2 linked regions of the Homo sapiens genome follow. The protein of the gene in region 2 purifies or fractionates together with the protein of the main gene of each other region. This does not show direct contact. Each region holds a gene or a part of one and is shown on either strand. Other genes may lie near its edges.

What was found.
Region 1: the proteins of RHOQ (region 2) and PACSIN2 purify together in Homo sapiens (affinity purification with mass spectrometry; 2 studies listed by BioGRID and IntAct, with this or other methods). This does not show direct contact.

What each region holds. Positions count from the first base shown.
Region 1 is NC_000022.11:42,869,485-42,881,664, forward strand, and holds the end of PACSIN2 (protein kinase C and casein kinase substrate in neurons protein 2), read right to left. Parts: intron 11,139-12,180; coding exon of another isoform or gene 11,133-11,138; intron 9,686-11,132; coding exon 9,564-9,685; intron 7,527-9,563; coding exon 7,404-7,526; intron 6,850-7,403; coding exon 6,653-6,849; intron 6,047-6,652; exon of another isoform or gene 3,008-6,046; intron 2,976-3,007; exon of another isoform or gene 2,501-2,975; intron 2,020-2,500; exon of another isoform or gene 1,986-2,019; coding exon 1,873-1,985; 3' UTR 289-1,872; downstream 1-288.
Region 2 is NC_000002.12:46,570,010-46,580,489, reverse strand, and holds part of RHOQ (rho-related GTP-binding protein RhoQ), read right to left. Parts: intron 4,404-10,480; coding exon 4,239-4,403; intron 3,930-4,238; coding exon 3,834-3,929; intron 456-3,833; exon of another isoform or gene 252-455; intron 1-251. UniProt on the Homo sapiens protein: Plasma membrane-associated small GTPase which cycles between an active GTP-bound and an inactive GDP-bound state. In active state binds to a variety of effector proteins to regulate cellular responses. Involved in epithelial cell polarization processes.

The sequences.
Region 1 (12,180 bases), on a different chromosome or scaffold from region 2:
CTTGTCCTGCTGTTTGGGCTGGGGCAATAGAGAGGCGCCAGCCGATGCCCGCACCATGTGGAAGCCCAGGTCAAACAGCAGCAGGTCTCGGGGAGAAGGGAACCCCAAGGGGCTCAGGTGCCTCAAATCCCCAACCTCCAGTTTGGCAGGGGCAGTGGGCCGTGGCCTTTTGGGCAGGGGTCCTGTGCCCTGGATCTTGCCCAGCTCCAAAGCTAGTAAGCCCCAGGGAGGCCACCCCCGCCAAGTGAAGTGGGCATGAAGACAGATGATGGCGAAGGGACTTCCATATGCACGAGATCAACTGTTTATTGATTTTTTTCCTCAAATACTACACATGTAAAGGAACTGTTAAACTGAAAAAGACTTGACAATTTTTGGTAAATCCGTAGCACAGAAATGAGGATTTCTGCTGGTAAGTTCTCAGGACAGACACAGACACAGGTCCACTTTCCAAGCAAGACATCTGCTCACTGGAAACGGAGTGAATGCATAGCTGGTGACGGCGGCGGGCACTGCTGAGTCACGTGAAACACAGGTTCCCCCACGTTCCCCCCACCCCCGCCGGCCCGCGTGGCCCCCGCGTAACTCTGGCTGCAGCACCTGCTCCCGGGCGACTCCGGGCAGCCCGAGACACTCGTGCTGCGGGTAAGACCCAGCTTCTGTTTGTGCACAAGTAACACGACGACTGAAATCTGCAACTACTGCAAAGACGCGGGCACTTTTACAGTGTTCTGCTACGGAGCCAGGACAAAGGCCGGTCAGAAGCCGGACCAGCAGTCAGCTGGTGACGACGAGCCTCCCTCCAGCAGGCACCACGTCAGAGAGGCCCCAGGCCCACTGAGCCCGGGAGGAGACCCAGCCGGCCAGCCAGACGTGTGCCTGAATGCCACAGACTTCAAGCAGTTTACAAACGAAACTCACTGTTAAAAGCTGTTAAATCTCATTAAAACAGTAGACGAGTGCTTTAGATTCTCTGAATATCAAATAATATATACAGATAGACACTGAGACATGACAGTCTAATCTAAAGCATCTTTACAGATGCATTTGCTTGAAAAGTTAGTCTTCTTTTTAACTCTGAATCAGTGATAAAATTGTTAATTTGCAAAAGAGTACAGTTTTAAGCAAGAATAGAGTGAAAATAATTTTTAAATATGGCGATTTGGGGGAGTTCTACCTAAGGTTCTATGTAAAGCTTCCATTCAGATGCCCAAAAGCACAAAGAGCATTCCCAATAGAAACCCGACCATAACCCGGTCCCACCTTCCTGGCATAATTCCTTTCCTCAAACATCTGCCACCTGAGGCTAAGCCTACACACGGCGTGGCTGAGTAACAGGGTAAGGGAATAGGGAGATCGTTTCCTCAAGACTGGTGCGCATCAATCTGTGCCATAATTTAAGTAGAAATGAACAGGTGTATAAAAAAGTATAACTGTACACAGCCTTTAAATTAAAAACCTCAAAATCTTCACTCAAAATGGGATGTAAGCTTGTTCATTTAAGTTGCAGGTGATGGACTCGTCAGAGAGAGTAATCAGTGGAACAAGATCAGTGTAACCCACCATTGACTCGGAAAGGAGAGACAAAGTCAAGAACATAGAGATCTATGATAGGCCAACAGGCACAGTGGGCGGGGAGGGGCGGCTATTTCTGTTGTTCTGCGTCTTCCTGCGCTCAGATCCCTCCAGCTGCACTCGGAAAGGTGCCGAGTCCCAGGCGAAATGACCAGCTCATCTGCCTTCCAGGAACACCATGAAGCCAAGAGCAATGGAACCATCATCTCTTGCAGGAAAAGGAGTGGATGCCCACGTGGCTGGCTGAGGCTCCTGGGCCCGCCGCCTCCGTCCCCCCGCTGGCCTGTCCCCGACTCATCACTGGATCGCCTCCACATAATTTGCCGGGTATAGGCCAACTTGCCCGTTGTCCAAGCGTCCCTTGCACCAGCCCTGCTCATCCTCGTCCTCCATCTTGGTCAGCTCATCCCCTGCAAGACAAAGAGGGAGCCGTCTCCATGAGAGGTATGACACCGACGGTGGGCTACAGAGCCGCATTCACGAGCTTTGAGCCCACAGAGGGTGGAGGGCCAGGCATTCTGTGGCGGGCAGGCCGAGGGCCTGGTCATTTCTCTACTAAATGCATGCATTTTAAGTTGCCTCTTTGGTCATGGGCCTCTGACAGACCTAGAGATGACAGTCTCACACAGTAATTTGGAACAAGCTGCTCTCAGCTGCCACAGTGGCTCCCACTGAGACTGCGGCATCCAGCTCCATAGGGCTGTGCCTTCCTCACCACCCTGGCCAGGTGGCAGGAATCGTCCCTCGGTTGTGCCCCTCCCTCACGTTGGGCCTCTTCTGTCCCCTCCCCAGGGCCCCGGCCGCCTTGCTCCCAGCAGCTGTCTCTGGGGTCTCTCTGCCTTTGCTAATCCCTCTCCTCTGCAACTTCCAGGCTGCGAGGGGAAGGGACCATGTCTGACAGTCATACCTGTCATTTTATCCCCAGCACCTGGCTGATGACTTGTGCACGGTGCCATGTGTCAACCCTTCCTGAGACCCTGAGAAGGAGCCCCTGGCGCTGTTCTGGAATCTCCCTGTGGCTCTAATGTATTAACGTGGTTCCATTTATCTTTGGTTGTTCCAACCTGAAGGACCTCCTACTTCTGGCCAGGCCTTGGGTAGAAGAGGAGATACAGAGATGAGAGGAACTGATGGATCCTGGTCTCAAGGAGGCAGACTAGGGTGGTGAGGGGGAGGTGGCACTAGGGTAGGGCCCCAGGTCTGGCATTTGCCAGGTTAGGGAAGCAGAGCAGCTCAGAGCCCAGGGGTGGGCAGGGGCCTGTGTGCTTCTGGTTGGTAACTCACTGCAGGGAAGGCCAGTTGGGCCTGCTGGCTCGGACCTCGTCAGGAGCAAGCAATTGGTGGGAAAGAAATAGTCCCAGTGCTGTTTTGCCTTTATTGCTAAGTTTGAAGTTTTGTAACTCTCTTTGGCATTTTTTGGTCCATTTTTCAGAATTAGATGCAGTTTTCCCCCTGGTTTAGCATTTCCCTGATGCTTTGGATTTTGTATGGCAGCAATGCTGGTCAACATGCCTGCGGAGCTAATACCTGGGGCTTCCAGTGCTCCCCGGACTGCCTGGGCTCAAATCCCACAGCCATCACTCACTGGCTGGGAGACCTGGACCAACTGCGTCCACTCCCTGGGCCTGTGGCCCTCATCTGTGGACTGGGGGTACTGTGAAGATTAAGTGTTAAGACACTAAAGAACCCTGGGAGGGTGGGACATGCGTAAGCACTGGCTCAGCCTCCCACTGTCGTGCCGCTTCTGCCAGACCAGTGCGCCTGCAGATCTAACCCAGAGGCATCAGGAGCAGATGCAGGGGCCACAGGGCAGCAGCCACGATGAACCACCATCTCTTTCCACCGCTTCGTGCCTCGGGCCCCTGGCGTTTCTTTTGTCCTGCCTTCATTGGTTGCTGTGCTCTCACAGGCCTGGATCCAGGCTACCGAGGCTAGGATGAGGCCTGTAACCCCACACTACCATGTGGCAAACAGCCAGAACACCGCAAGAGACGTAAGTCAAGCCACACTGGCTGGGAGCTAATTTTGCATTGTTAAAAAGCAGGATAACACAGAAAATAGAACGGACAGGAAAGCTTTCACATTGTGCAAATGTGAACTGGTGATTAGAAGGTTCATTTCAATCAGTTTGCTTTTGACAATTTACTTGGATCTGGAAGAAACATTTTAAATCTACAAAATTACTGTCAAACCCAATAGGCAGGATTGAAAAGGAGTTAGAAATTATAAACAAATAAACCAACAAAGTCGGGGGTAACAACCCCAACCAAAGATATCAGAAACTGGATGAAGATGGCTTAAAGGCACATTAAAAAAAAATCCAAAAAAACAAAAAAACCCAACTTCTCAAACTGGGCAGAGGCAGCTGATAACCAGCCCAGGGGAAGAGTGTCTGGGGACAGCAGGCTGGCACTCTGGGTGCTGAGGGGAGGAGGCTGAAGACTGGTTAGAAGCTAGGCCATTGGGCACAGCCCCCAGGCCCTGGCTTCCCTGCTGAGTCAGGGGTTGGGGTGGTGGTGGTAAGGCAGCCTTTCCCACAAGTGTAGCCTAGGGGCAAGGGCACACTTCAGCCTGTGTGGGTTGAGTTCTGGCCCAGCTTCCCTCTTGGAGTGGTAGATGCTGCTTCTGGGGGAGCTTCACAAAGAGGGCAAGAGAGGGAAGAATCTGGGTTGCTGTGGGTCCACTTTGGCCCTAGGCCACTCCAGCTTCCTTAGGTGCTAAGATAGCAATTTTCTTTCCTTTTTTTTTTTTTGAGACAGAGTGTCACTCCATCACCCAGGCTGGAGTGCAGTGGTATGATCTCAGCTCACTGCAACCTCCACCTCCCAGGTTCAAGTGATTCTCTTGGCCTCCCCAGTAGCTGGGATTACAGGTGTGTGCCACCATGCCTGAATAATTTTTTTATTTTTTAATAGAGGCAGGGTTTCACCATGTTGGCCAGGCTGGTCTCAAACTCCTGACCTCAAGTGATCCTTCGGCCTTGGCCTCGCAAAGTGCTGGGATTACAGGTGTGAGCCATCGTGCCCGGACAAGATAACACTTTTCAAATTGAAGATGTGAAAAGCCATTTTGGTAAACTGCAAATGCATTAAAAAAGATTCCTATAGTGGGTGGGGTGGTAGCACACATCTGTGGTCCCAGCTACGTAGGAGGCTGAGGTGGGAGGACTGCTTGAGCCCAGGAGATCAAGGCTGCAGCTGCTGTGAGCTATGATCGCACCACTGTAACCCAGCTTGGCTAACAGAGTGAGACCGTGTCTCTATTAAAAAAAAAAAAAAAAAAGATTATCATTGAAGACCATTCAAAGAAGAAAAAGACATTGCACAGAAAGTCTTCACAGGCAGAGCACATGTAATCAGGATCCAGGCTGTTTTATAAAACTATGGTTTCTGCTCCTAGCAACACAGATATGTGTGTGGGTTGGTGTGTGCATGGTAGGTGTGGGCAGGTAGGTGTGCACACACACAAGTTGCTGCCTGAGACAAGGCCCCACCTGGCCCAGGGGCATGCCAAGTGCTACTCTGGGGTCTGGGCAAAGCTGTGGCTCTCCTGAGGGCTTCTCTGGCAGTTGGGGACCCCTAGAGAAAGGCTTCTCTCATGGCCCTGCGGGGCTAGCAGCTCCCAGACTACATATGGGGGAACCTGGTGGTCCTGGCCAACAGCTTCTCCAGATGCCCTTCTGTGTGACTAGCCAGTGCCCTGCAATTCACAGCCTTGGCCCAGCAAGGTGAGGAGTCCAGGCACTGGCTTGGCAGCACCTCACTATTTCTGAGTCTTGGCATTGGGCATCCGCTTTTTTTTTTTTTTTTGAAAAAGAGTTTTGCTCTGTCGCCCAGGCTGGAGTGCAGTGGCGCAATCTCGGCTCACTGCAAGCTCCGCCTCCCGGGTTCAAGCAATTTTCCTGCGTCAGCCTCCCGAGTAGCTGGGACTACAGGCGGCTGCCACCACGCCCGGCTAATTTTTTGTATTTTTAGTAGAGACGGGGTTTCACACTCTTAGCCAGGATGGTCTCAATCTCCTGACCTCGTGATCTGTGTGCCTCGGCCTCCCAAAGTGCTGGGATTACAGGCGTGAGCCACCATGCCCAGCCTACTTTTTTTTTTTTTTAAGAGATGGGGTCTTGCTCTCTCTTCTAGGCTAGAGTACGTGGTATGAACATGGCTCACTGTATCCTCTTGGGTTTAAGTGATCCTCTGCCTCAGCCTCCCAAGCAGCTGGGACTATAGGTATGCAACACCACGCCCAGCTAATCTGCTACTTTTGTTTGTTTATTTATTTGAGACAGGATCTCGCTCTGTTGCCCAGGTTATTTATTTGTTTGTTTGTTTGCGACAGGGTCTCGCTCTGTTGTCCAGGTTGGAGTATAGTGGTACAATCATGATTCATTGCAACCTCAATCTACTGGGCTCAGGTGATCCTCCCACCTCAGCCTCCCAGAGAGCTGGGACTACAGGCATGTGCCACTAAAATTAGCCCAGCTAATTTTTTTTTTTTGACACAAAGTCTTGCTCTGTCACCCAGCCTGGGGTACAGTGGTGTGACCTTGGCTCACTGCAACCTCCACCTCCCAGGTTCAAGTGATTCTCCTGCCGCAGCCTCCTGAGTAACTGTGATTATAGATGCCCCGCCACACGCCTGGCTCATTTTTGTATTTTTAGTAGAGACAGGGTTTCACCATGTTGGTTAGGCTGGGCTCGAACTCCTGACCTCAAGTGATCTGCCTGCCTTGGCCTCCCAAAGGTGCTGGGATTACAGGCGTGAGCCACCATGCCTGGCCTAATTTTTTGTATTTTTTGTAGAGACAGGTTTTGCCATTTTGCCCAGGTTGGTCTCATACTCCTGGGCTCAAGCGATCCTTCCACCTCGGCCTCCCAAAGCTCTGGGACTATAGGCATGAGCCACCACATCCAGCCAATTGGCTGCTTTTGACAATGAAGCCAGGGCACTGGGGAAGGGCCTGCAGTGACTCACAAGTGAAACTAGCAAGAACTTTTCCAGACTTAAAAAACAAAAAAGACCGCCCACAGCCTGCAGGTTGGAAGCCCTCCTCCCCTGGATGCTGGGGGAGCCCACCTACCAGCCTTGAAGCTCAGCTCATCATGCTCCTGCCCCTCATAGTCATACAGGGCCCGGACTCGCACTTCCGTCCCCGAGGTGGCGTCGTCGTCGAATGGATTCGAGTCCCCATTGGCATCCGTGGAGGAGAAGGGGTTGTTAGACTCATCGTCTGACCAGTCGGTGGGATAGCTCTGGGTCTTCTCGTAGCTGCTCACACTGCAAGAAAGGGGAGGCCACAGGGCCCTCAGCACAGGGCGGCAGAGGGTGTGAGGCCCCCGCCCCGCAAGGGGAGGGCACTGGAGCCTTGGGGCTCAGGGCTGAGGGCTCCTTCCGAAGGAGCACAGGTGGAGCCAGTGCTAGTGTGAGTTCATGCCATCCACACTCATCCTGAGCCATCAACAGGCTTTCCAGGGGCAGGCGGCTGGAGATGCCCACAGCAGAGGCCAACCTGGGGCCTCACTCTCTAGTCCCCAGCACAGACTGCGCGTTGTCTGTTTTCCTGTCATGGTGCTGCTAGGGCCTTGAAGGGTTAACAGAGGACAGAGAAAAAGCAACTTAAGATTGTTAGCTGTGCCCTCCCCGAGGAATGGGGGTGCCAGAGAGCCTGTGCCAGAGAGCAGGTAGTGGGCCAGGGTGCGGCACGCCAGGTGCCCACTTCCTGCAGAGCTCCGTGCATTGCCGAGTGCCGAGGGGTGAGACCCCTGGACAGAGAGAGAGGAAGAGAGACAGAGTGAGCGCGGTGGGAGCAGAGGAAGCATTTGTTCACCAACTTTTTGGCCTTAGTGTCGTCCTTCTCACTGACGGTGCTGCCCGTGTCGTCCTCATCCTCGAAGGGGTTGTAGCTGGACTGTGACTGCGCAGACTGGGCGGGGTTGCTCGGGACATTAAGGGTGCTATGGAGAGAGAGAGCTTTCAGGGGATCCCAGCTCTGCAGGGGCCCGTGAGGGTCCTGGCAACTCCTAGCTGCAGGATCTCAAGAGACAAATCAGCTCCTCCTGTGACCGGAGGGGACCGTGGTGTTTCAACAGAAAGGTTACTATGGCAGAATGCGGGCAATACTTCAGCTGTGAAACACGGTCCAGGAGCCTAGGAGAGGACTTGGTTTCCCTTTTCCTTCCTTGCACCTGGAGACAGTCCGTCCAGAACAGGGGCCCTGGGGTGGCCCAGGGGCGGGTGACAAGCCACAGCTGGAGCAAAAGTCGTTTCCAGGTTCAGGGCTTCTCCTCTGTCCTGACTCCCACCAATGTGAGCTGGGGGGGTCAAAAAGCCCCTCAGGGTCTCCTCTGAGAGTGACAGTGTGGGAGGGGCCGGCTCCCATGGATGAGTGGGAGAGGGCTCTGAGCTCTTCAGCCCACACGGCCTCCTCCTGACTACTAAGGGGTTCAGGGCTCGCTCTTCTGCTCTGTGGAGCTGAAGCCTCCAAAATCAGGGCCAGGGCCTGCGGCACCGTCTTTTCTAGATAGAAAGAAGATTCCTTTGGTGCTCCAGAGGGAAAATCCAGTCGTGCAACTGCCTACTGTTTGCCAGGCCCAGTGTGGGAACCAGAGAGATCTGGGCCAAGCTCTGCCTGAGGGCTGGGAGCCGGGAGCTGAGTTACACACTACGAAGACCACAGGCAGACCATCAAGCAATCCAATCAGACAGGCACCAAGGGCCCTGGCACCCCACCAAGTAACTGATCCTAGGACCGGGCTACCCTGGCCAGCAGCACCTTCTACTTCCAAGACCAGGGCCTCAGGGCACAGGCCCCCAAAGCACTGGATGGACTGCTCAGCCTGAGCACCCACCACCCCAGAACCAAGGAAGGGAGGCGAGGACATGCCTCCAATGCCACCAGGGTGATCCTGAGTGGCCAGTAACTGCCTCATCCACTTCAGCCTGGCAAGTGGTACTTGACCTAGGCCTGCTGGAGGCCAATATCCAGGCCACATGTCTGAGCTCACCGGCCCTCCTCCCTCCTTGGCACCTTTCTCTAGCAGACTGTTGTGAGACGGCACTGGTGGGGGCGGCTGGATTGTGCAGCAACCCTGGCCAGCCCAGGGCCCCCAGGGTCTCCTCTGAGGCAGTGTTTCTTCTTTCCCATTCCCACCCCCAAGCATACAGGTGCTGGCCTGATCCCTGGGACAGGCACTTACTGCCGAGCCCACCTGCCCAGACAGCGTGCAAAGCAGCGGAATGACGACAGCCACACCTGCTGGGGAGCCTGGGTGGGGGCTTCAGTGCCTGGGGCTGCAGGAAGGCCAAGGGAACCTGGGCTAAGCCTTCTTAGGAAGCCCCCGTATGAAATGACTATTACTGAGTGTCACATGGAGGCCTGTGGGCAGGTCCTATAGGAAGACCTCCTCTAGCACACACTTTCCAGAAGGTTCTAATGACCACAGTGCCACCCTTATATCTCTCATTTTCAGCCAATGACTAAGTCAGAAATAACCAATGCTCCTAGTGAAGAGGTAATTTGGAAAGGAGATGCCTGGCAGTCCTCTCCTGTCCCTCCCTCGACTGGCGCCTGCACACAATACAGAGTGAGCATGAACCTCGGCAGGACCTCAGCTGCCTGAGGGAACCAGGGTGGCACCTCCACCAGTGTCCGGGCAGGGCGGTGCTATCCCTGGGGACATGAATGCCAGCCCTGTCATCAGCTCCTCCCCACTCAGGTCTGAAGCTCAGGGCCAAGCCTCCCTCTCTGGATCTGTCAGCAGCTCTGGCACCAGGCAGGAAGACGACCTTCCCTGGAGATGCCCCTGGGCCACGGCCCACAGAGCTCAGGAGCCCAGGAACCTCCCAGGTGTCCAGGCTGGGCCACGGCCCACAGAGCTCAGGAGCCCAGGAACCTCCCAGGTGTCCAGGCCGGGGCTGCCCTGGACCATGCAGATTGCCCAGGGCCCCCACCATGGAACGGCCTCTTTTGGATGGAGGTGGCGCCCACTCACCTGCTGGGCTTACTCGGCAGAGACTGGTCGCCTGTCTGGTTGATGCCCGTCAGGGTGACGCCGTCAGTGGCCTTCTTCTTCTCTCTCCGGCTGAGGGTTCGATTCAGGTCTGCGGACCACTCCTAGGCAACAGGTGCCGAGGGAGAGAAACCAAAGGTTCACTACTTGCTGGAAGCCACGTCTGTCCTCAGTTCCTGCCCAGCGAGCCTGCAGTTGGCTCTGTGCATCTGATGTGTAGACTCAGGGCCCCAGCTCTCCCTGGTTTCCCAGAAGACCTCAGGCTCCCCATGCCCCACTTATGAACCCAAACGACCTGAGCCCCTCCTCACTGTTCAAAGCAGGGGCTCATCAGGGGATCTGGAGGCTTGCACCTCTACAACCACCCCCAGGCCATGCTGCCCACCTCCCAGAGGACCAGCGGGGGTGGCGAGGACCAGGGCAAGGTCCGGGGCCTCCTGTTCCTGACCCCACCCACCAAGGTTCTCAGTCCCAGCCCCCTCAGGCCAGCATGGGCCCCTGTGGCCTCCCCAGATGTCTGCTGAGCCTCCCAAAGTAGACAGGAGCCAGCCTCTGAGGCACCTGTCCTGAAGTGCTGAAGATCCTTTGCGTCGATGCCCTAAATTGTCCCTGGGCCACAGGGTCAAGACAGTTGGCTTCGGAGACCTGAGCAAGCCTGCCATGTGGAAAGGCAGGTGCAAATAAAACCAGGTGCAAATAAAGCCACTGCAAATAAAACCAGGGCTAGGTGGCTACCCGCTGACAGAAGGGGCAGGCAAGCAGACTCTCAGTCTCCAAAGCGCAGGGCCCTCCCCAGTGTTTTGCTGCCCTGGGACTTTTCCTCTGTGATCTGAGCACATGCTGGGGCTAACGAAGCAAAGCAGAGTACGCTCCTCCTGGAAGCCTCACGAGTTCTCGGGTGGCGAACTGGCTTCACCAACCGCACTGAAAATGGACTAGGGCAAAACCATGAATGGAGACTGTGTCTTGATTTTCTAGAAGAGTCTGTGCATGCCCGCAGGTGTTTAATGAGCTCTCCTTCCCCCCATCTCCACCAGTTACCAGACAACTCTGATTAAAACTTGGTGTGGCTGAGTCCACGGCTCTGCTCACACGTACTTACAGAACTTTTGGGTTGGAAGCCAACTCAGAAGCATCCTGTCTAACCTGTCCATTTGTCAGATTAGGAAACTGAGGCCCAGAAAGGCAATGTGATTTGCCCACGCAGTGTGGGTGGCAGACTTGGGCCCGACCCCAAATCTGGGTCACCTTTTCATCTATTAATTATTTTCTGACCAAAATAGATTGACTGAGAACTCAATTGGAACCTCAGAGTTCTCCACAGTGACCTCTGAATATAAATTCATCCTGATTGGGTGGCTTCCAAAGGCCAATGGGATCAACACCAAGCCGGCACTGATGGGAAGGGCCGGCTCTCAATACCCCTGACAGCAGCGCAGCCTCAGCTGAACTGCTAGGAGCCTAGCGGGGGCAGCACACCCACCCATGCGGGCCACAGACACCCTGCATGGCGTATGGCACTCTATGAGGTAGCCGAACGCAGACACTTACTTCATCCTTGTGGCATGAAAAATAAAAACAAAGAATTGCATTAGAGAAAGGCATGGTCCCGTAACAGCTGCAAATGTGCGCAGAATGAATGCACAGGGGCTGGTTCCCAGCCCATGGACCCACAGAGAGAAGGACCCCCTAGGCTCTGGCTGGGACACCCTCCAGGAGACAGACTGTCAAATAGTCCTCCCCACTGTGCCCCTCTTTGGGTATAATGGGCACCTCTAAGGGACCCAGGCGAATTTCACAGGTGGTTTCCTGTGCCACTCCGGGAGCAGCAAATCCTCGCTGTGTCTGAAACCCCAGCTGTGCACAAAACACGTCAGCCAAGACTTCCTGGTGTGTGGCTCCAGAGGAGAGGCTGGGCTTTGTGCTGTCCCCTCTAGGGCCGCTTCCAGTCAGGACGGCTCTGGCCCTCCATGCTCTCTCAGTGCCTCTGTGGAAGGGGCACAGCTGCTCTACTGCCTCCTACTGGGAGCAAGTCCTGGGGCTGGCGCAGGGGAGTGCTCGGCAGCAGGGCCCACACTGTCATTTGGAAAAACCTTCCTGTTAAGGGCCATAAAAGAAGTGCAGGAGTAAGGACTGACAAAACTGCAGGCTATGAGGCGCCCAGGAGGTTTCTGAGTGGTGGGCCTGGGTCAATAGCCCTGCGTGGACAAAGTCACCATGTTCCCTAACAGCCCCCGACAGGAGATGGGTGCTCTTGTCATTCCCATTCCACACGTGGGAAAACTGAGTCACAAAAAGGGCGAATAGTTTGCTCAGCTTCCCACAGGTGGTCAGAGGTGAGCAGAATCTGAATGCAGCCCGGGCTCTGGCCGCTGCTGAGTCGGGGAAGCCACGAGGCCCACGCCCACAGCAGAGGTAGTCGCCCTCAGCATCCCTGCTGGGGCAGCTGACGCCACGTGCTTAAGCCTCAGGGGCACCAGGACCTTTGCCCACTGCCTTCAGGGTGCCAGGTGGGGCCTAGTGACCAATCCAAGGGCTAGGTGAGTCCTGAGATCCCCAGGCCCTTGCATTTCGAATGTAAAGATAATGAAAGCTTAGA
Region 2 (10,480 bases):
GGCTTCTCAATGGGGAAGTTTGAGCAGTGAGGGATACCTAGGGGAAGAGCTCCAGGCAGATAGATCCTGATGCAGGAGCATGCCTGGAGCAGTCAAGGAACAAGATCACACTGAGGATGTGGTATTTGAGCAGAGACCTGAAAAGAGTGAAAGAATGAATCATGTCCATAGGGAAGAACATTCCAGGCAGAGGGAACAACAAAAGTACAAAGGTTCTCAGGTAGAACTTTGAGGGAACAACAAAGGAGACCAGGAGGCCTGGGGAACAATGAGTAAGGCAGAGAGGGAACAGAGGCTTGTAGGCCACTGTGCGGACTTTGGCGTTTAGTCTGAGCTGGGGACCCACTGGAGGATTCTGAGCAGAGCAGTGACATGATTGCGCTTACATTTTTAAGACTTACTCTGGCTGCTGTGTTGAGAACAGATGACCATGGGGCATAGACAGAAGCAGAAAGGTGAGTTGGAAGCTATTCCAGTAAAGCAGGCCAGAGATGGAGGAGGTCTGAACCAGGTGATAGAGGGAAGAGTTAGAAAAAAGTGTCTGGATTCTGGATATGTTCTGAAGGTATGTTGTGCCGAAGGCTAGATGTGTGGTATGGGAGAAAGAGCAAGGTCAAGTACGACTTCAGGGCTTTTTTTTTTTTTTGAGACAGTTTCACTCTTGTTGCCCAGGCTGGAGTACTATGGTTCGATCTTGGCTCATCACAACCTCTGCCTTCTGGGTTCAAGCGGTTCTGCCTCAGATTCCTGACTAGCTGGGATTACAGGCATGTGCCACCACACCCAGCTAATTTTGTATTAGTAGAGATGGGGTTTCTCCATGTTGGTCAGGGTGGTCTCCAACTCCCAACCTCAGGTAATTCTGCCCGCCTCGGGCTCCCAAAGTGCTGGGATTACAGGTGTGAGCCACTGCACCCAGCTGAGGGCTTCTGACCTGAGTAACTGGGAGGACAGGCTTGGAGGGTAAAAGAAGAATCATATCTTAGACATGTTAATTTTGAGATACTCAGCCATGTAGATGGACTTGTTGAGTAAACAGCTGGATAACCAAATTGAGAATTTAGGAAAGAGGTCCAGGCTGGAGATGGAAATCCAGGAATCTTTGGTTGTAGACTGTGCAAGCTACAAGACTGACAGAAGCTCATTTAGGCCTAGGGAGTGTAGCTATAGAAGAAGACATCCACAAAGCTGAGTGCTCATCACTGGGGCCCTCCAACCAGGGACCAAGGAGGTAAAGAGATGGAGCAGAGTCCAATGAGAGGGGAGAAAAACCAAGAGAGTCCAACTGAAGAAAGTTTCAGGAAGGACGCAACTGTGCCAAATGCTGATGAGTCTAGAAATGAGATCATACTGTTTTGCAACTACTTTTTTCCCTTTAGCTACATAATAAATATGAAATCTTAACAGATAGTATGAAGTTTTAATAGATGCAGGGAATTTTTGCCATTATAAACAATTCAGCATCTTTGTAGCTCTAAGTACGTCCCTAATAATTTACTTTTATTATTAAATATTATAAATGGACAAATTATAATTTTATATAAGGTACAAAGCAATATTTTCTCTCTATATATACATATACACACACACACACGAGTGAAATGATTAAATCAACATAATTAACATCTATCACCTTAAATACTTATCATTTTGTGTGGTGAGAACATTTAAAATTTACTCTTTTAGCAATTTGGAAATACGCAGTCCACCATTATTTATTTATTCATTTATTTTGAGACAGGGTCTCACTCTGTCATCCAGGCTGGAGTGCAATGGCACTATCTCGGCTCACTGCAACCTCCACCTCCTGGGCTCAAGTGATCCTCCTTCCTCAGCCCCCCAAGTAGCTGGGACTACAGGTATGCACCATCATGCTCAGCTAATTTTTTTTTTTTTTTTTTTTTTTTTTTTTTTTTTTTTGGTAGAGATGGGGTTTCACCATGTTGCCCAGGCTGGTCTCGAATTCCTGGGCTCAAACGATCCACCCACCTCAGCCTTCCAAGGTGCGGGGATTACAGGTGTGAGCCACCGTGCCCAGCACCACCATTATTAACTGTAGTTACCATGTTGTGCAGTGTTATCTCAAAAAATGTATTCCTCCTAACACTGTACACTTTGACCAACATCCTAATGATTTGCTTAGGATAAACTCTTACATATGGAATTGCTTGATCAAAAGTGTCCATGATTTTAAGGATTTTGCATACTGTCAAGACTGCTTTGATTCAATGACCAATAGTACAACAGAGTGTCCATTTTACTACACGGGTATTATAATTAATTTCTCATTTTTTGCCAATTCTATAGGTGCAAATTGAGCTTACATTTGACTACTAATAAGTTTGAACATATTTCCTATCTTCAATGGCAATCTGCATTTTGGGGGGTGAATTTTTCATTGTTAGCCCATTTTTCTATTGGTATCTGTGGCTGCTTCTGATTAACTCATATGCAAGAGGTTCCTGTATACTAAGGATGTTAACCCATTTTTCTGCCATCCATCTCAGGTTATATGACTTTTCATTTTATTTCTGGCATTTGATGTGGTATTAAGTTTTTATGCAGTGAAATCATTAATATTTTCATTTATGGCTTTTATCTTTATGACATTTAGAAATTCCTTCTCTCCCCAAGATTACAAAACTGAATACATGGAATTTCTGAAGTGATTTGTTAGTAAAGCCATTTATTTTTTGCTTTAGGAAAAACTGTCCTCCAGAAAGTTTTCTTGCTTTCTTTTGCCTCCTGATACTACATTTTAAAAGACTATATATGGGCCGGGCGCGGTGGCTCATGCCTGTAATCCTAGCACTTTGGGAGGATGAGGTGGGCAGATCATGAGGCCAGGAGGTCGAGACCATCCTGGCTAACATGGTAAAACCCCATCTCCACTAAAAATGAAAAAAAAAAAAAAAAAAAAAAAATAGCCGGGTGTGGTGGCAGGCACCTGTAGTCCCAGCTACTTGGGAGGCTGAGGCAGGAGAATGGCATGAACACGGGAGGCAGAGCTTGCAGTGAGCTGAGATCCCGTCACTGCACTCCAACCTGGGCCACAGAGTGGGACTCCGTCTCAAAAAAAAAAAAAAAAAAAAAGACCATATATGGATTCTGTTTCCACAAAAGTCCTATTGAAATCACAACATTTAAAAAATAGAATCCAATAATGTTAAGGCCAAATGGGAAAAAAGGGGAAAAAGTAAACCTATCTTTGGGGCACGAAGGAAGATAAGCTACAAGGTATTGCATGCATCACTGTTACATATATTTTTAGAATTTTTGTATTTTCTATCCTCTTTTCATAAAAAGATTGGAGAAATTTCAACACATTTCTTTTCAAACCTAGTCATCATTTTTTGGTTTTAACCACAAATTTAAACTGTCATCCTAGGTGGCTCCACTGTCTAACTCAATGAGTCTTAAGACAGAGCTGATTTGGCACAGTGCAACTGTTTAAGTAATGAAGAAGGGTTGAAAGTAGTGACACGTGTTTCCGATGCTTTTTTCCATATGTGACTTTTTAGGAAAATATCACTGGCAATGTAGCAAAGGTGTAAGAGTCTCGGCCCAGGAGTCAGGCTTTGGACTGAAACCCAACTCTGCCATTTATTACCTGCAGGATCTTGGGCGAATTATCTGACATCTCCCAGCCTCCACTGTCTCTTCTGTGTAACAGGGGAAACAGACCTACCTCACTGAGTTCATGCAAGGATTAAATGAGATAATGCATGTAAAGCACTCCACCTGGCACACAGTAAATACACAATAAAATTAGCTTCTATTGTTATCTTAGCATCTTTTACATTCATGCTTAAATTCTGTGAGTGTTCCATTACCTCTTTTGCTAGTTTCTGTCCTTGTTCCACACATATAGGTTTTTCTTTCATATCATTCAGTCTTGCTAAAGTTTTGGGGTCATCTCGGAGATCAATCTAATTAAGAAAGGTCAATAATGTCCCATAATATTACAAATCTTTAAAGAAAAATCAAAGCATGTAATCCCACTTAATTCCCACATACCAAAAAAAGATTAAACAAAAGAACTTAATTTTTAAAAACCAGGAAAATAATTGCTTTCTTTTGGCACAATTTTTTCCAAAAATATGATAGAACTCATTAACTTGCAGCTGAGATTAAACACTTACATCATTTGCTCAGCTTTGGGACTGTTTGTCTGAGAGCAGCCTCTACGACAGACCAAAGAGCTTATTCTAAAATGCAGAAAATCAAACCAGACATACCTGAGTTCCTATTAATAAAAAGGGTACATTTGGTGCGTATTCCTTAAGTTCCGGTACCCACTCCTCTTTCACATTTTGAAATGAGGCTGGATTTACCACCGAGAAGCATATAAGGAAGACATCGGTCATTGGGTAAGATAAAGGCCTCAGACGGTCATAGTCTTCCTGAGGAACAAAGAAAAGCCTCATTATGTATTTACATTTCTATTGTTTACTAGTAATATGTACATTAGATTACATGGTCAAAGATGCAAATTCAGGAGTACTCCACTAGTGGAATGTATGGCACTCTAAGTAAAATCAGATAACTCTGTTTTTGTTATTCTTCTTTGTGAAGTTCTGAACACCCATGAGGTAAAAAAAAATGACAATATCATTAACAATGACAATGAAAACTTTGGAAAAATACATTATGATCACTAACGCTGTCACTAAAAACATTTTTAACTAAAAAGTTTGCACAAAGAATTGAATATAGCTAGACATTGCCTAAGTATTATAATTTATAATAATTAATACATGCTAAATATTTACTATGTGTCAGGCACTAGTCTATATGCTCTCTCATGGATTACTTATTTAATCCTTGTAACAACAATATGACACAAGTACCCTTAATCCTGACTTTCATTTGAGTAAACTGAAGCACAGAAGTTAAATTACTTGCGTAAGGATGTGTAGCCAGTAAGTCAAGGAGCTGAGATTCAAATCCTGGCAGTTTTTACTCCAGAGTCTATACTCTTAACCACTATACAGCTTCACTGAGACCTTCAAGCTTTGCTTTCCTTGTTTCTATAGTTTTATTAATTGTGTGTGTGTGTGTGTGTGTGTGTGTGTGTGTGTGTGTGTGTGAAGATTTAAAGAGAAACATACACAGTAAACCCACCAAAATCCTCCTTTACTCTCCAACTTTCATTCCCTCTACTTAATATTTTCATGTTTATTCTTCCAGTTCTTTTTCTATGCATGAATATACCAGTAACTGCACATATTCATACATCTGTACATAAAATGAAATCATGCAGTACTTGTTGTTCTGCACTTTCTTTGTCTTGGACATCTTTCTAAATCAGAATACGTTAGACTACCATATCATTTTACACTGTTGCTTCAGAGTCCCCAGAACAGCTATACTCCTGATGGTTATTTTAGTCTCTATCACAAAAGGCAGTGAATATCCTTTTTTGCATAGACTATTTTATGTGACACAAAATTCTACTTATTTACATTCTCGAGAGTGAACAGAGTCCGGATTCCATTTTTGGCATAGCTAGACTCTCATCTGGTTTCAAAGAAACTTTATTTTTAGCCTGGGCCACCTCCCCTCTTAAATGACTCGTTTCACTACAGAACTACACAAATGTGGAACTAAGGGAATATTAAAAACATCATCTTCCACTTGGAGTTTCAGCAGTAGTATTTCCCTCATGGAACAATTTTCCTTTCATGCATTTTTCTGACATTTTTCATAATATAACTTTCAACTAAAGCATGTTAATGTCCCAAACCCTTGACTGGTGGGTAACCCTTTTGTTTTTCTGTGATGCTTTTGAAGGGCACACCTATAATCTAGAGCTGTGGGCATTAAAAGATTTCTCAGGTGTTCGCTATCACATGACGACAGGGGAAATGCCACCCCCAATCTTCTGCAACTTTTATTTTTTAAAGTGAACGCCTCTAAATGGTTTTGATTAAAGCAGTGCCCTGGTGTTAAGAAATTCACAATGAAGAGATCAAATAGGGTGGGTATGAAACACGTTATACCCCCAGACAGTTACTAGAGGAAGACTTCTTGAAAATTTAACTTTTTAAAAATCAGCTTGTGTTAAACAGTACAATTGAGTGCCTTATATGTACTTTCTGGGCTCTACTGCCTGTTTCAAACTGCAAGTCCATAAAAGAAAAAAAAAAAAAAGAAACAGTATGTCATCTTAGCATCCCACCCAGCAACTCCACACTTCTGAGCAAACATGCAGTTGTCATGGCCGGGAAATGGGGTGTTCTCATTAAAAAGCACTCCTCATCCATATTTAGATTTCCAATTTTCACAGAAATAGGAATGGGGATACTATCCCTTAGGATTATGAGGAATAAATGAAATAGTGCAACTAAAGCACTCCGCATAACACCTCGCACATCGAAGAACTCTTTCAATGCTTAAACATAAATTCTCTATCCCATGGGAAACCAAGTCTCTTATTCCTCTGCAAATCCACGCAGGGTCCCCTGAGTCCCACACTTGCCTCAGCTTTGCAGCTCCCTCCAATCACAGAGAAGTCTTTTAGTAAGAAATAAAATCAAAACACACAAAACTCAGGTCTCTCGAGACAGTATAATTTTCAGATGAATAAAAGAGAATGATATATTATTACTGTACTCATTAGTCACTTAGCCTTAAGACTATTTAAAATGTAACAAAAATAGATTTATATTTAAGAAAGCCAAATTAGAGATTTTAATGGAAATTTTACTTTTCAAGCAAGTTTACCTCCTCAGGGAAACAGAAGTGTGCGCTCTTTCTCTAGTGAGAGATGACAAGAAATAAAAACTAATTGAATGCCATGTTCCCTAGAGATGCTTAACAATATTAATCCAAGTATTTTACAGAAGGTAAATATATTGTACAGATTCCTTTCATAACCACAGTGAATCCTGACTTTCCTCCATGAGAGACGTGAGCACAAAGGAGGACAATTGGACCAATCATTTCTAGATATTTCTTAAATTGCAGGTTTTGTTTGATTAATTAAAATGTGAAGAACTGGGGCTATTAAAAAATAAAACACACATATGTTTAGACCTCCTTGGAAAGAAATGTTACTTCTTAAGTCTGAACAATCTAAAATGAATTCCTTCTGCCTGTCATCTCTGGCTAAATAATTGGCAGTTAGTGGCCGGGCATGATGGCCCACACCTGTAATCCCAGCACTTTGGGAGGCCGAGGTGGGACTCTTGAGGTCAGGAGTCCAAGATCAGCCTGGCCAATGTGGTGAAACACCATCTCTACTAAAAATACAAAAATTATCTGGCCGTGGTGGTGCACACCTGTAATCCCAGCTATTCGGAAGGCTGAGGCAGGAGAATCACTTGAACCCAGGAGGTGGAGGCTGCAGTGAGCAGAGATTGTACCACTGCACTACAGCCTGGGCAACAGAGCTAAACTCCGTCTCAAAAAAAAAAAAAAAATCGGCAGTTAGTACAAGAATGAGACCTTTCTGCTTCTATCCAGCTGAGTAATTAGAAGTCTAATAATAGCAAATTTAGAAAATAAATTATCCCCTGTGCATACTGTACCCTGCATCATATAAAATGGTTCATATGCATCACATAGTATCCTGTGTGAATTTAATATGAAATGTGGGATTTGGGAATGAATAAGTGGAGGTGTGCAGAATCTTTCATCTTCAGCCATATATTTTAAATTTGAGAACACAAAGAAGTCAAATGTAGAGCAACTGCCCTTACTTTTAAAAGATCGACTTATCAAAGTCACAACTTCTCACAGCCAACTCTCCAGTGTCCTCCTAATTAACAAACCCATTATATTTTAGTTCTAATTTTAAAATGTAGGTATTTAAACATTTCAGCATGGTAACTAGAACATTCTCAGGAGTACAGAAAAGTGTATTAAAGACAGCTGTTCAACATCAAAACAATGAAAGAACTGGTGAGTTTAGTCAGCATGGCTGTTGGACTGCATGGCAGACTCTTTAGCTTCTTACCAATTGGCTAAGTACCAGAAGTATCAAGTTTTTAAGTGTGTTCTGGCAGCTTAGTGTTCAGGCTGTCCCTTGTTGAAGAGTCCTCGATATGTGATAATGACAACCTTACTTTAAAAATATCACACATGGCCAGGTGCGGTGGCTCACACCTGTAATCCCAGCACTTTGGGAGGCCGAGGTGGGGAGATTGCTTGAGTCCAGGAGTTCAAGACCAGTCTTCCCAATGTGGTGAAATCCTGTCTCTACTAAAAATACAAAAATTAGCTGGGCATGGTGGCACATGCCTGCAGTCCCAGCTACTCAGGAGGCTCAGGTGGGTGGATCAGTTGAGCTCAAGAGGTTGGGCCTGCAGTGAGCCATGAACATGCCTGGGTGACAGAGTGAGACCCTGTCTCAAAAAAAAAAAAAAAAAAAAAAAAAAACACACACTTACCACCTGATAAGAATCTGCAAACAAAAAACTAAAGAAATGCGCTCTGAGAGGAAACAAAAGCTCTTCCAATGCCACAGAGAAATGTAGCCAATGGCCATCAGCTGGAGACCCCTTTCTGTGTGCAGCTCAGCCAGCAGTGCCCATGAGCCTTACTTCTGCACTATTCTTTGTCCCCTTCATGTGGACCTGGGTGTTCCCTCCTACCTTAGTGATCTCTGTTTAAAATATATGTTTTTGGGATGTGTATGTCTATTTTAAAATACATATCCAAAACATTTCTTAAATAAAAACACTCACATTGGACGATTTACCTTGTGCCATGCTTTGTTAGCTGGTATGCTATCATGTATTATTTAAAAGCAATCAGCAAAGATTTATTGAGACTATAGCCCTCTGGAGCTTGCAGTTTAGTTGGGAATTCAAGATATAAACATATAAAAAGACAGTCATATACAACAATAGGAGGGAATAAAAGTGTAAGCTGGAGCAAGTGAATATAGAAATGCTTAACAAACATTACTAAGCACCTACTATGTGCCCAGAACAGTGCTAACTGCAATAAATAAAGGAGGGAAGGATGAGATTCAAATAACATCTATTTGTAAAACACCTTATAAACATTTACAAAGCTCTCTCATTAAGTATCTATATGTTAAAAATAAGGCAATGCACTTGAATGTGCAGCAGTGCCCACAATGTGCCTGGACACCACTCCAGCGCCTTGCAGACCTCCAAGCCACAGCCTAGAAGAGGAAACTGCAGGCTGGTGTGGGAACGTGCATCAGGTTAGCACCCAAGAAGAACAATTCTGATAGGTGAGGAGATACACACAAATGCATAACAGCTTTCGATCTTAGGAAGTTCATGGTAAGGTAGATAAGATGTATGTGAACATGATATTACAAGTTAGAATGTGGTAAATATAAAAAGTAGTAATGAGGGGACACTAAGAAAAGACCTCTTGGAAGAGGCACTTGAGTTGGTCCTTACAGAATGGAGAGAACTTGAACGTATCCAACATGCTAGGAATGCGACTTTAGTCCAGTCCCTTATTCCTTAGGGCCTTAGTTTCTCTGTCTGAAAAACGGGAGACTTATCAGTGACAAATGCTTTGAAGACCATAAAGTACTATAGGAATGTATTACAATCCCAAATAATGCAGGATAGTACTTTGATGTAAGAAATAGTCATTTATCAAAACCTACTAGAGTTTTCCTCTGTAACAACCTAGAATGAGAAACAACCTAGAACAAGGGGTAACAGATAAGCCCCAGCCTTCCCAAATCTAAAGCAGCTTCTGACTACGTGAAGAGAGACATAAAACATATGACAACTAAGTAAGAATATCCCTGAAAAGTGGTGGCTTTGTGGTCTGTGCAGTAGCAATTCTCTGTGTCACTTCCAAGGCACACAGTAGTAATCTTCATCTACAACATCTGTTTCTAGCGAGAAGTCCAAAACAGGCATCGAGCTCTTGAAACCCTCCACCCTTCAAAGGGTGCTACACAGAAGTCCAGAGGACACATGTCATGAAGCCAGCTTCTGAGAATGCAACTGTTTTCTCCTACATCTAACTTATATATCACAACATGTCTATGGTAATGCTTGGTCAGAGTAGCCTATGAAACCTCATTTCTTTTTTTTTTTTTATTTTTTGAGATGAAGTCTCACTCTTATAGCCCAGACTAGAGTGCAATAGCACAATCTCGGCTCACTGCCACCTCTGCCTCCCGGATTCAAGCAATTCTCATGCCTCTGCCTCCTGAGTAGCTGGGATTACAGGTGCCTGCCACCATGGCTGGCTAATTTTTTGTATTTTTAGTAGAAACGGGTGTTCACCGTGTTAGCCAGGAGGGTCTCAATCTCTTGACCCTGTGATCCGCCTCCCTTGGCCTCCCAAAGTGCTGGGATTACAGGCATGAGCCACCACGCCTGGCCTGAAACCTCATTTCTATTGTGCAGTCATTTTGACACTTTTGAGTTCATTTTATATTTAACTTTGTGAAATGAAAATATCAGTTTTTACCTCTTTAAAAATAACTCTGTTTTTCAAGGAAGCTGGGTTGGGTCCTTTTTGAAAACACTTT